Homo sapiens: one gene and its partner. The gene in region 1 interacts genetically with each later gene. Each region holds a gene or a part of one and is shown in the gene's direction. Other genes may lie near its edges.

Region 1 (5,763 bases):
GGAACTCCCTTTTACCATGTTTTTCTCTCCTCATTCACCCTCTGCTTAACCATGTTATAACCATATGCACTTCCACTCATCCTTCCTTCCGTACTCCTTCATCTATCCAAGTCTCTCTAGACCTATGCTTTTGTTGTCATTCTCGCCTGCATTCTCAGAGACCCTACTCCATCAGTCACAGTCTTTCTCCTGATTGCTCAACTTTTCCTTCTCTCTTTGCTCTCCCCTGATTATGATAAAATCATGATCAACTCTATCCTTTATTTTCAGAAACTCTTAAACCACATTATTTCAGTATTTCCTACTTTTTCTCCTTTTCTTTCTCATTTTCTTGAAAGAATAGCATGTACCCATTTGTAGGGTTTTTTGTTTGTTTGTTTGTTTTTTCCCTATTTTCTCCCTTTGCGTTTATCCTTCAACTCACTGAGATTTAGCTTCTACCATTTTTGGAAACTAGGTGTGCTAGTCATCTAGGACCGCAGAGTGGCTGAGTACAGTGGACTGTATCATGTCATTTGAAACTTTCTTTTCTGTTGTCATATCACTTTTCCATATGACAACTGATTTGTGGATCACTTTCTTAGAACTCTGTTCTTAACTCTCTACTGTCTACTTCCAAGAGGCCTTTAGGGGTGGAGTGCATGAATGGGCATTCATGCAGCTTTTGAAATGGAGTACAAAATGTTGTTTATATGTATGTATGTCTGTTTTCTTAGGAAGAGGGTCCATGGGCTTATGTATATTTGACTTAGACAATATTATGTTCATCCATGGTTTTAACTATGATGAAGTGATAACATGAAATTCTGGATTTCCAGCCCAGACCTCTGATAGGAAATCCAAAACCATATGCCCCACTTGATAGCCCATAATTAAAGTTTTCCAAAACAGAATTATCATTCCTCTTCCTGATGCCCTCTATACATATAGACTCCTCCACTCTTCAACATTTCCTAAGCCAGAAATTTGAGTGTCCTGCTCCTTTCTCCTTCTTTAAATCCTATTCCACATTGATTCTGTCTTCCAAGTATACTGATCTCCTAAATCCATCCTTTTATGTGTTTCCCTGGCTTAATTCTATCCTCTCTGTCTTTCAGTTGGTTTATTGAAATAACTTCCCAACTGGTTTGCCTGTGTCCTGTTTGACCCCACCTTGACAGTTCACCACATGTAAATCTGAGTAATTTTTCTGTAACATGTTAGTATTTTTTCAGTGATTCTGATTATCAGAATGAAAAGTGCCTAATTTGAGACATGTTGTTTGGTCTCTGCTTACATTTTTAGGTCTTATTTCATCAGTTTCCAAATGCACATTCTGTAGGGGTTTTAAAAGTAATTAAGTCTGTTATTTTGGCTTTCCCCCTCATAGTTTACCTCTTGTAATAACCTTGTCTAGGTCCTTTAAGTCTCAGCTCAAGCTCAGCTTCCTTCTTTATATCTAGTGCCCTCCCACCCCTTTAGATGCTCCTTCCCTGTCTTCCTACAGTTATAGCTGCATAATTATTGCAACTATTTTTCTTTCTTCCCAACCATACTGTAAGCTCATCATTGAGGGCAAGTGCAATCATATCAAAATGTTTTTCTTTTTTTAATCTCTAGAGCCTCATAAAATATCTAATATATGGTGGGTGATCTATAAATATTTGCTTAGTGAATGAATAACATAATATTTAAAATTTGTTTTCTCAATTTGACCTTTATACATTTCAAATAAAACTTAAAGGGAATCTTTTTCCTGGTACAAAATACAATGAGTTGTTTTTTTTTTTTTTTTTTTTTTGAGACAGAGTCTTGCTCTGTTGCCAGGCTGGAATGCAATGGTGCGATCTCTGCTCACTGCAACCTCTGCCTCCCGGGTTGAAGTGATTCTCCTGCCTCAGCCTCCTTAGTAGCTGGGACTACAGGTGCGCACCACCACGCCCAACTAATTTCTGTATTTTTAGTAGAGACGGGGTTTCACCATGTTGGCCAGGATGGTCTCAATCTCTTGACCTCGTGATCCGCCTGCCTCGGCCTCCCAAAGTGCTGGGATTACAGGTGTGAGCCACCGCGCCCAGCCTAAAATGCAATGAGTTTTGAAGAACTGTAAACTTCATTAACATCCAGTGCCTAGCCCAGATCCTAGTAGATAGGAGAAACTCAAATATTTGTGTATAAATGATTTATAGGTAACAATGAACTAATGAGCTGTTACATTTTTAGTGTTGCTCATTCAACCTGGGGAAGAAAACACATCAAATAAAAATAGCAAATCTGGTAATGTGCTTTGCTTCATTCCCTTAACAAGCATAATTTCATGCTGATTATTTTGATAAGATCTCAGGGAGCTTTACTTGATGTGTTTCCAGGATTTGTTTCAAGATTTAGAGCTCTTTTTAGCAGTTTTTGTAGTGCTGGCTTGGTAGTGGCGTGTTCTGAGCATTTGTTTGCCTAAAAAGACTGTACCATCCCTTCATTTATGAAGCTTAGTTTTGCTGGATACTAAATTCTTGGCTGATAATTGTTTTGTTTAAGGAGGCTGAAGATAGGGCTCCAATCCCTTCTAGCTTGTAGAGTTTCTGCTGAGAAATCTGCTGTTAATGTGATAGGTTTTCCTTTATAAGGTTACCTGGTGCTTCTGCCTCACAGCTCATAAGATTCCTTCCTTCATATTAACTTTAGATAACCTGATGACAGTGTGCCTAGGCGATGATCTTTTTGTGATGAATTTCCCAGGTGTTCTTTGAATGTCTTGTATTTGATTGTCTAGGTCTCTAGCAAGGCTGGGAGAGTTTTCTTAGATTATTCCCCCAAATATGTTTTCCAAACGTTTAGATTTCTCTTCTTCCTCAGGAACGCTGACTATTCTTAGGTTTGGTAATTTAACATAATCCCAGACCTCTTGGGGGCTTTGTTCATATTTTCTTATTCTTTTTTATTTGCCTTTGTTGGATTGGGTTAATTAGAAAACCTTGTCTTCGAGCTCTGAAGATCTGCTTGTTCAATTTTATTGCTGAGACTTTCCAGAGGATTTTGCATTTCTATAAATGTGTCCATTGTTTCCTGAAGTTTCGTTTCTTATTTATGTTGTCTATGTCACTGAAGATTTCTCCCTTCATTTATTGTTTATTTAAATTTCCATAAATTGGGCTTTGCCTTTCTCTGGTGCTTCCTTGATTAGCTTAATAACTGGCCTTCTGAATTCTTTTTCAGGTAAATCAGGGATTTCTTCTTGGTTTGGATCCATTGTTGGTGAGCTACTGTGATTTTTTGGGGGGGGTGTTAAAGAACCATGTTTTGTCATATTACCAGTGTTAGGTTTCTGGTTCTTCTCATTTGGGTAGGGTCTGTCAGAGAGAAGGTCTAGGACTCAAGGCTGTTGTTCAGATTATTTTGTCCCACGGGGTGTTCCCTTGATGATATTCTCCCCCTTTTCCTAGGGATATGGCTTCCTGAGAGCCAAGCTATAGTGATTGTTGTCTCTCTTCTGGATCTAGCCACTCAGCAGGTCTACCAGGCTTTGGGCTGGTACTGGGGGTTGTCTACACAGAGACCTGTGATGTGAACCGTCTGTGGGTCTCTCAGTCATGGATACCAGCACAGTATTTGGGGTATATCCTGGGCCCTGCAGGAGCAATCTGCTTCCTTCAGAAGGTCTGTGGGTTCTCTTGGCTTTCCTGATTTATTCCTGCCGTCATTCTGGAGCAAGAGTTTACAATGCAAGACTCCACACGGTGCTCTGTCAGAGTGGGAGCTGCAGTCTAGTCCTGCCTCCCGTCTGCCATGATCCCCCCCCGACCCTTTTTTTTTTCTACTCAGGTCTCAGGGAGCTTTAAAGTTTTCAGTTACTGTAGTTTGTAACAATGTGACCTCATTACCGAATCCTAATATTAGATCTCTTCTTAGAGGTTGAGTGTATTATCTTGTTAGGATTTGCTAGGTTTGTGAGTTAGAATAAAAATGAAGTCTTGCTTTCTACTTTTTAAAAAAGAAAGGCACAGAGGATTCAGGACATTACTGTGATGTATATAAAAATGGTGAAAGTAGTGGTCCCAAGTACCCCATTAATTTGTAAGACCATGCCAGAGGCACAGTATTAATACATCATGTTTCTTGTTCTGATGCTACATTTTGAAAGCACTAACTTGTGTGGTAAAAGGTAGGTTCTAGGTTCTGAGGCAGAGTATGTTTAGTTTACTATCAGAGCCTTTCTTTAAAGACTTGACTAAATTTAGTTATCTTGAATACATTTTTGCAGTGTCTCAGTGTGGGTAGAAAATAAAAACCCCAATGCTTTGGCATCCATTGTATACCTTACTTCCTCTCTATGGATGACATGTACAGTGTACATACATACTGTGTACTGTGTACAAACATACTGTGTACTGTGTACAATTCTTGGGAGAATTGAGAAAAAGTCAAGTCACTTTCAATAAAAGAGTTGTATTCTCTTACAGACCCCCATTGAGAAAGGCTGGTAGGAGCCAGGCTATGCACTGAATTCAGGCCATGGATTTCTGTCACCCAGGCTGACTGCAGTGGCATGATCATGGCTTACTGCAGCCTTGACCTTCCGGGCTCAAGCAATTCTCCCACCTCAGCCTCCTGAGTAGCTGGGACTACAGGTGCATGCCACTTGCCTGGCTTTTTAAAATTTTTTTGTAGAGTTGGGGGTCTCACTGTGTTGCCCAGGCTGGTCTCAAACTCCTGGCCTCAAGCAGTCCACCTGGCTTGGCCCCAAAGTGCTGGGATTACAGGTGTGAACCACTGTGCCTGGCCCCCAGTCCATGGATTTCTTAATAGATGAATTTCTTCCTTGGCCATTATTGGCTTGAGACAAAATTAAGCGGTGATTTAAGAATAAAAGACATTGGCTAGGCATGGTGGCTCACACCTGTAATCCCAGCACTTTAGGAGGCCGAGGCGGGCGGATCACGAGGTCAGGAGTTTGAAGCCAGGCTGACCAACATGGGGAAGCCCCATCTCTGCTAAAAATACCAAAATTAGCCGGGCGTGGTGGTGCGTACCTGTAATCCCAGCTACTCGGGAGGCTGAGGCAGGAGAATTGCTTGAATCTGGGAGGTGGAGGTTGCAGTGAGCCGAGATCACGCCACTGCACTCCAGCCTTGTCAACAAAGTGAGACTCCGTCTCAAAAGAAAAAAAAAAAAGAATAAAAGACATCATCTCTAAGACAGTGGTTCTCAACTACGATCCTTGACCTACTGCATCATCTGCAAAGTTGTTGGAAATGTAAATTTTCAAACCTCATCTCAGTGCCATCTGATCTGCTGAATTGGAATATTGGGGTGAAGAGAGTAAGGTGGTAGGGCTCAGCCAGTTTGTTTTTCAAGAAGCCCTGCAGGTAGTTTCAATATATAATAAAGTTTGAGAATCTCTGCTCTGTGCTGTCCACTGACTCTTGCTTTCATTTTTTTCTTCCAAATGCTCCAGGAAGTATGTTATCTAGTGTTAGAAAAATCCAGATGTGATTCCCTGAATCATCTTATTTCCATGCTCTCCTGAATTCACTCCCAACAGGTAGTTGAAATCTGAAGTCAGCTAACTTAGAAGTTTATTTGTAAGTTGGATCATTTGACTTCTCTGTTTAAAATTCTCCAATGTGATGTAGAGAGTCCAACTGTTTTTTCCCCAGCTGTCCTCATACCAGTTCTTTACTGATTTGCAGTGCAATCATGTTTGTTTTTAATACCTCATTTTTTTGTTTTTGATTTGTAATAAATATTTTGCTCAAAGAATGTGACCTCTATCAGGGATCAGTAAAC
Region 2 (4,532 bases), on another chromosome or scaffold:
CACATCTGGTGTCAGCAGTGTTGTGTGAGAATAAAGAGAAACAGTGTGTTTGAGACTTGCTGTTCTAAAAATATGAGCCCCATGAAAGTAAGACCTATGTGTTTGATTTAGTTTCATATTCCCAGGGCCTGGCAGAGGTGACTGATCTGAAAAGTCACTCAGTAAATATCTAAGTGAATGAATGAATGAATGAATGAATGAGGGAATGAAAGAAGTCAAAATAACAGAAGCCTAGTGATTCTATGCAGAAAGATTTCAAATCTTTCTGTAGTTACTGGTCTATGCAGACATTATGTTTGATAGGAAATTATTCTAGTTCATCAGAAAGCTTTAATATTTATTTTGGTCAAATTTGAACTGTTCCCTGTCATGGAACTGAGTCTTTGATATGATTTTGATAGGGAGGTCTTAGAGATTCTGTTAAATCTTTCCCTTTAGGAAGGATGAGAGATTTTACCTGCCATCCTTAACTCTTCTAAATTTTAGATTTATTGACTTATAATGTTATTTATTTGGCTATTTTAGATTGGTATTTATATTTTACCCTATAATACAGAGAATACTTGTCATAGAAGTTAAATCCGTTCTTGCTTTTAGATTTTTGGGCAAAGATAGGTTTTAATTTTTTTTTTTTAAAGCCAGACACTTTAAAAAGTAGCATTGTGTTCATTAGAGATGGCGTATAGTCTGCTTTGCTTTTTCAAATAGTTTGCACTGAATAATGAACAATAGTAGAAAACTGTTCCCTGCAGGGTAATTTCAGCAGACAGGACATCTGTTTACTATCTTGCAGGTTGGGATTCCTTGAAGATCTGCCCAACTTGAGACTGTGTAAACTTCAGAAATCTGGGAAACAGTTTGAGAGACAACTGACCTAATCAGAGAACAATACTTACTGTTTAGGGCACATAGAGTAGTTTAAGCATTTACACCCAGAACATGACAAAGTTTCAGAAGGTGTAGAAGAATTTGCTAAGTTGGGTTTCTACTGGCAAGTTTGCTTCTGTCCCTTGAGGCATAATTCATGGAAGAATCCTCATTTACCCACTAATTTATAGGGTAAACAAATCTAGTCAGCATCGGTTCTTAACAGTCTTAGATAACGGGGTCAGATGCTAAGGTGTAAGTCTTACTGTGCTGCAGAAAACATGAATGTTTCAAGATGGGTTGCTGGTATTACCTTCCCTCTTGTTTATATGCTGTAGAGATTGTTCCAACTAGGGCTTGAATTCCTCTTATTAGGGTGATATTTATGCTTTTATAAACAACATGTTCACTTTTGGGTCTGTATTTCTCAGTGCCTTCACTTTTCAGCAACCCACGAAGTCTTAAAACAGAGGAAAGGAAATTGGGGTTTGACCAGCAGTGTATTGTAGTCACCTGAGGAGTTACAACAAAACAAAAACAAAGGAAAGCTAGGCCATACAACTTCATTAGAAATTAGAACTAAATAGGATGTTAGAGTAAGTTGGAGAACTAAAAACAGACACCACCTACCAAACCCAGTATAGGAACCCAGCCGGTATCAGTTAGCTGAATTTCAGGAGTGTGCTCACGCATTAGTATACTTTAAAGCTCCCCAGATGGCTCTAATGTGTATCCAGAATGAGGACCCCTCTTCATTTATCTAAAAAAAGCTCTTTAGGTGATTTTGCTCAGCTGGGAATGAGTAAATAGGGCTCCTGAGTGTATATGTATCACAAATGTGGGGTCATTTGTGATACATATAAGCAAAATATAACAGGAGAGTGTTTTTGTTTTGAAGAATGGTTAAGCTTTCCATGTGTCTTTTTCAGCCTTGCTGTTATCAACATATTTGGTGCACTCAGTTTGGTATCACTCATTTATTGTGAAGTAATTAGAAGTGCTTTGGACTCAGAAGTCAGATCTCACTTCCCTGGCTAAATTCCCTGTCAGCTTATCTTTGTTTCCTTATGTAAAATGGGAAAATAATATAACTGACTTCACAGGGTGGTTGTAAGGATTAAATGAGTCCTTGCACGTAAGACGGTGGAGTGCTTGACATATCATAAGTGATAAGTGTTTGCCATTCATTCCTTCAGCAAAATATATTTTGAGTATCTTTTATGTGCCAGTATCTGTGTTAGGTGTTGAAGATGTGGTGAGTAAATCATCCTTTCATTTTTATGGGAACATTCACGAGGGGAAACAATGAGCACAACATGGATTCTGTCTCTATTAAAAGATACTTCGAATCTATGAAACTTTGAAATATATATACATGGCAAATTCTTGGTTATCTATGTAGAATAGCAGAAGTATGTATGTCATTTAGTTATATTTAATCAGGAATTTCCTTTCCTTTTAACATTTAAATCAGTGTCTGCAACCTTTCTGGCACCAGGGACTGGTTTCGTGAAAGACAGTTTTTCCACGTGGGGGGTTGCGGGGATGTGAGAGGATGGTTTCTGGATGACACTGTTCCACTTCAGATTGTCAGGCATTAGATTCTTCAAAGGAGCATGCAACCTAGCTCCCTTGTATGTGCAGTTCACAGTAAAGGTTTGTGCTCCTATGAGAATCAGTGCCACTGGTCACCTGACAGGAGACAGAGCTTAGGCAGTTTACCTCCTGCTGTGCAGCCAGGTTGCTATCAGGCCACAGAGCAGTTCCCGAGCAGTACCTGTCCGTGGCCTTGGGGTTGGGAACCCCTGCTCCAAATGAATCCTACTGTAAGGCATTTCCATGACATTACTTCTTGAACTAAAGAACTGAGGTTTTAGTGTGTATGTAGGAAATAGGACGATCATAAAATGTCACAATGAAGAATGAGCTAGCTTAGTTTTGATAATAGTGATTTTTTCCTGAGTACTTTATCAGATTATATTAAAATGACAAGATCATAAATATTAAAGTTGGAAATTATTTTAGTGATTGAGTCTTTCCTGAATGCTTTCTTTTTTGGACAGCCTTCAGTACTAGAGAGAATTTATCCTTAGAGTTGAAATCTTCTTTCCAGAAACTGTCACCTGTGGTTCTTAGGTTTTGCCTTCAAAGTAAGACTAATCCTCTAAGCAGCCAAAGAACTCTTCAGTATTTGGAAAGTGCTTTTTTTGAGTGTCCCTTGCCTAGAGAGAGATTTGCATTAATTTTACTGGTTCTCATCACAGGATTTTAAGCTTTCTCTCTTGTAATTACCCTTTTCTGTGGATTCTTACTCATACTGATTGTTTTTTGTGCTTTTCTCATTTCTTAGTTTGGTACTGTTACTGGTAAATTTTCTCTTGGGTCATTGTAAAGAACTGAGGATAACAGTTCAGTGATGTCGAAAGAGCGAGATAATTATTTCTTTTACTTGGAGCGCTGTATTCTATTGATACTACATAAAATTGCATTGGCTGTTTGGCAAGCATGTCAAGCCTGGTGTGCTGTTTGGTTACATTATCCTTACTGATCCCTTTAGAATTCACTTTTGTTAGAGTTAAGACAGTTTTCAATATAGTTTGAACTGTAATAACTTGTTTTAAAATATATTAATTTTTTTATTGCTATTTTCTTCATAACTGGAAATGAGGTTATTTTCATCTGGCTTCTTTATGAAACTGTGCTGGTCCTAGTCACCAGTATTCCCTTTTGCATATGTAGGAATCAGCTGTTTAGGAATCACTTCTAGAATTTGTCTGAAGAACTATGTTAAGCTCATATATCTTCTAATATCTCTTGTTTACTTTGATTTCAGTAGTGGTTTAGCAATCTCATTAGTAGGGGTAAGTATAAAGGAATCTAGGTAACCTAGGTGAATTGGTAGTTGTGTTTGTAATAACTCTTTATCAGTTTAGTTTATCCCGTCTTGATCACCTGTATTTGTTCTATTTTTTAAGTGTAGAAATAATTTTTCTTGGCAGAGAGGTATGTTGAATAAGCATTAAATAGTTATTGACAAATATCAACAATATTGGTCATTTATTGAGCACTTACTATGTGGCAGACTCTGTGCAGAGAACTCTATACTGTGTCATTTTTAGTAGTGTCAGTAATGCTATGAAATAGTGCTATTTTGCAAATTAGAATCTAAGGCTTGAGAAGATTAAATAGCTTTCTCAAGGTCACAGCTAGTAAATGCTGGAGCTGGAACTCATACCCATACTTGTATGACTCATCAAGTCCATTTTTGTGCCTTTCAAGAAGTGGAGAGGTCTTTCATACAGGAATGTGTAGGTTGTGCACTTTCATTTCGTAGTATTGAAGGTCTGCCAATCTTATTAGTTGGTGTTACTCCATTTTGAGCTCTTTTCCCTGCTGACTGCTTGCTCTCCTTTGGAGTTCTGTATCTTACTGGTGTAGTCTTTTTGGGTCTATTCATAACACAGTTTTTACTGCATATCTGTTGTCTATTACTACCTGGTTATTTTAACTATCAATTTAGTTACTAATATGAAAATCATCTCCCAGGTTTAAAAACTAGGTTTAAAAACCTACTTTTAAACCTAAAACTAGGTTTAAACTAGGTTTAAATCTTGGCTCTACTACTTCCTAGATGTGTGACCTTTAGCCATTTACTTAATTTCTCT

What was found. A genetic interaction does not mean that the proteins touch.
Region 2: changes in ASCC3 (region 1) and EIF3H together harm fitness less than expected from each alone (positive genetic interaction), as found in Homo sapiens cells (one large-scale study listed by BioGRID).

What each region holds. Positions count from the first base shown.
Region 1 is NC_000006.12:100,870,482-100,876,244, reverse strand, and holds part of ASCC3 (activating signal cointegrator 1 complex subunit 3), read left to right. Parts: intron 1-5,763. UniProt on the Homo sapiens protein: ATPase involved both in DNA repair and rescue of stalled ribosomes. 3'-5' DNA helicase involved in repair of alkylated DNA: promotes DNA unwinding to generate single-stranded substrate needed for ALKBH3, enabling ALKBH3 to process alkylated N3-methylcytosine (3mC) within double-stranded regions.
Region 2 is NC_000008.11:116,728,324-116,732,855, reverse strand, and holds part of EIF3H (eukaryotic translation initiation factor 3 subunit H), read left to right. Parts: intron 1-4,532.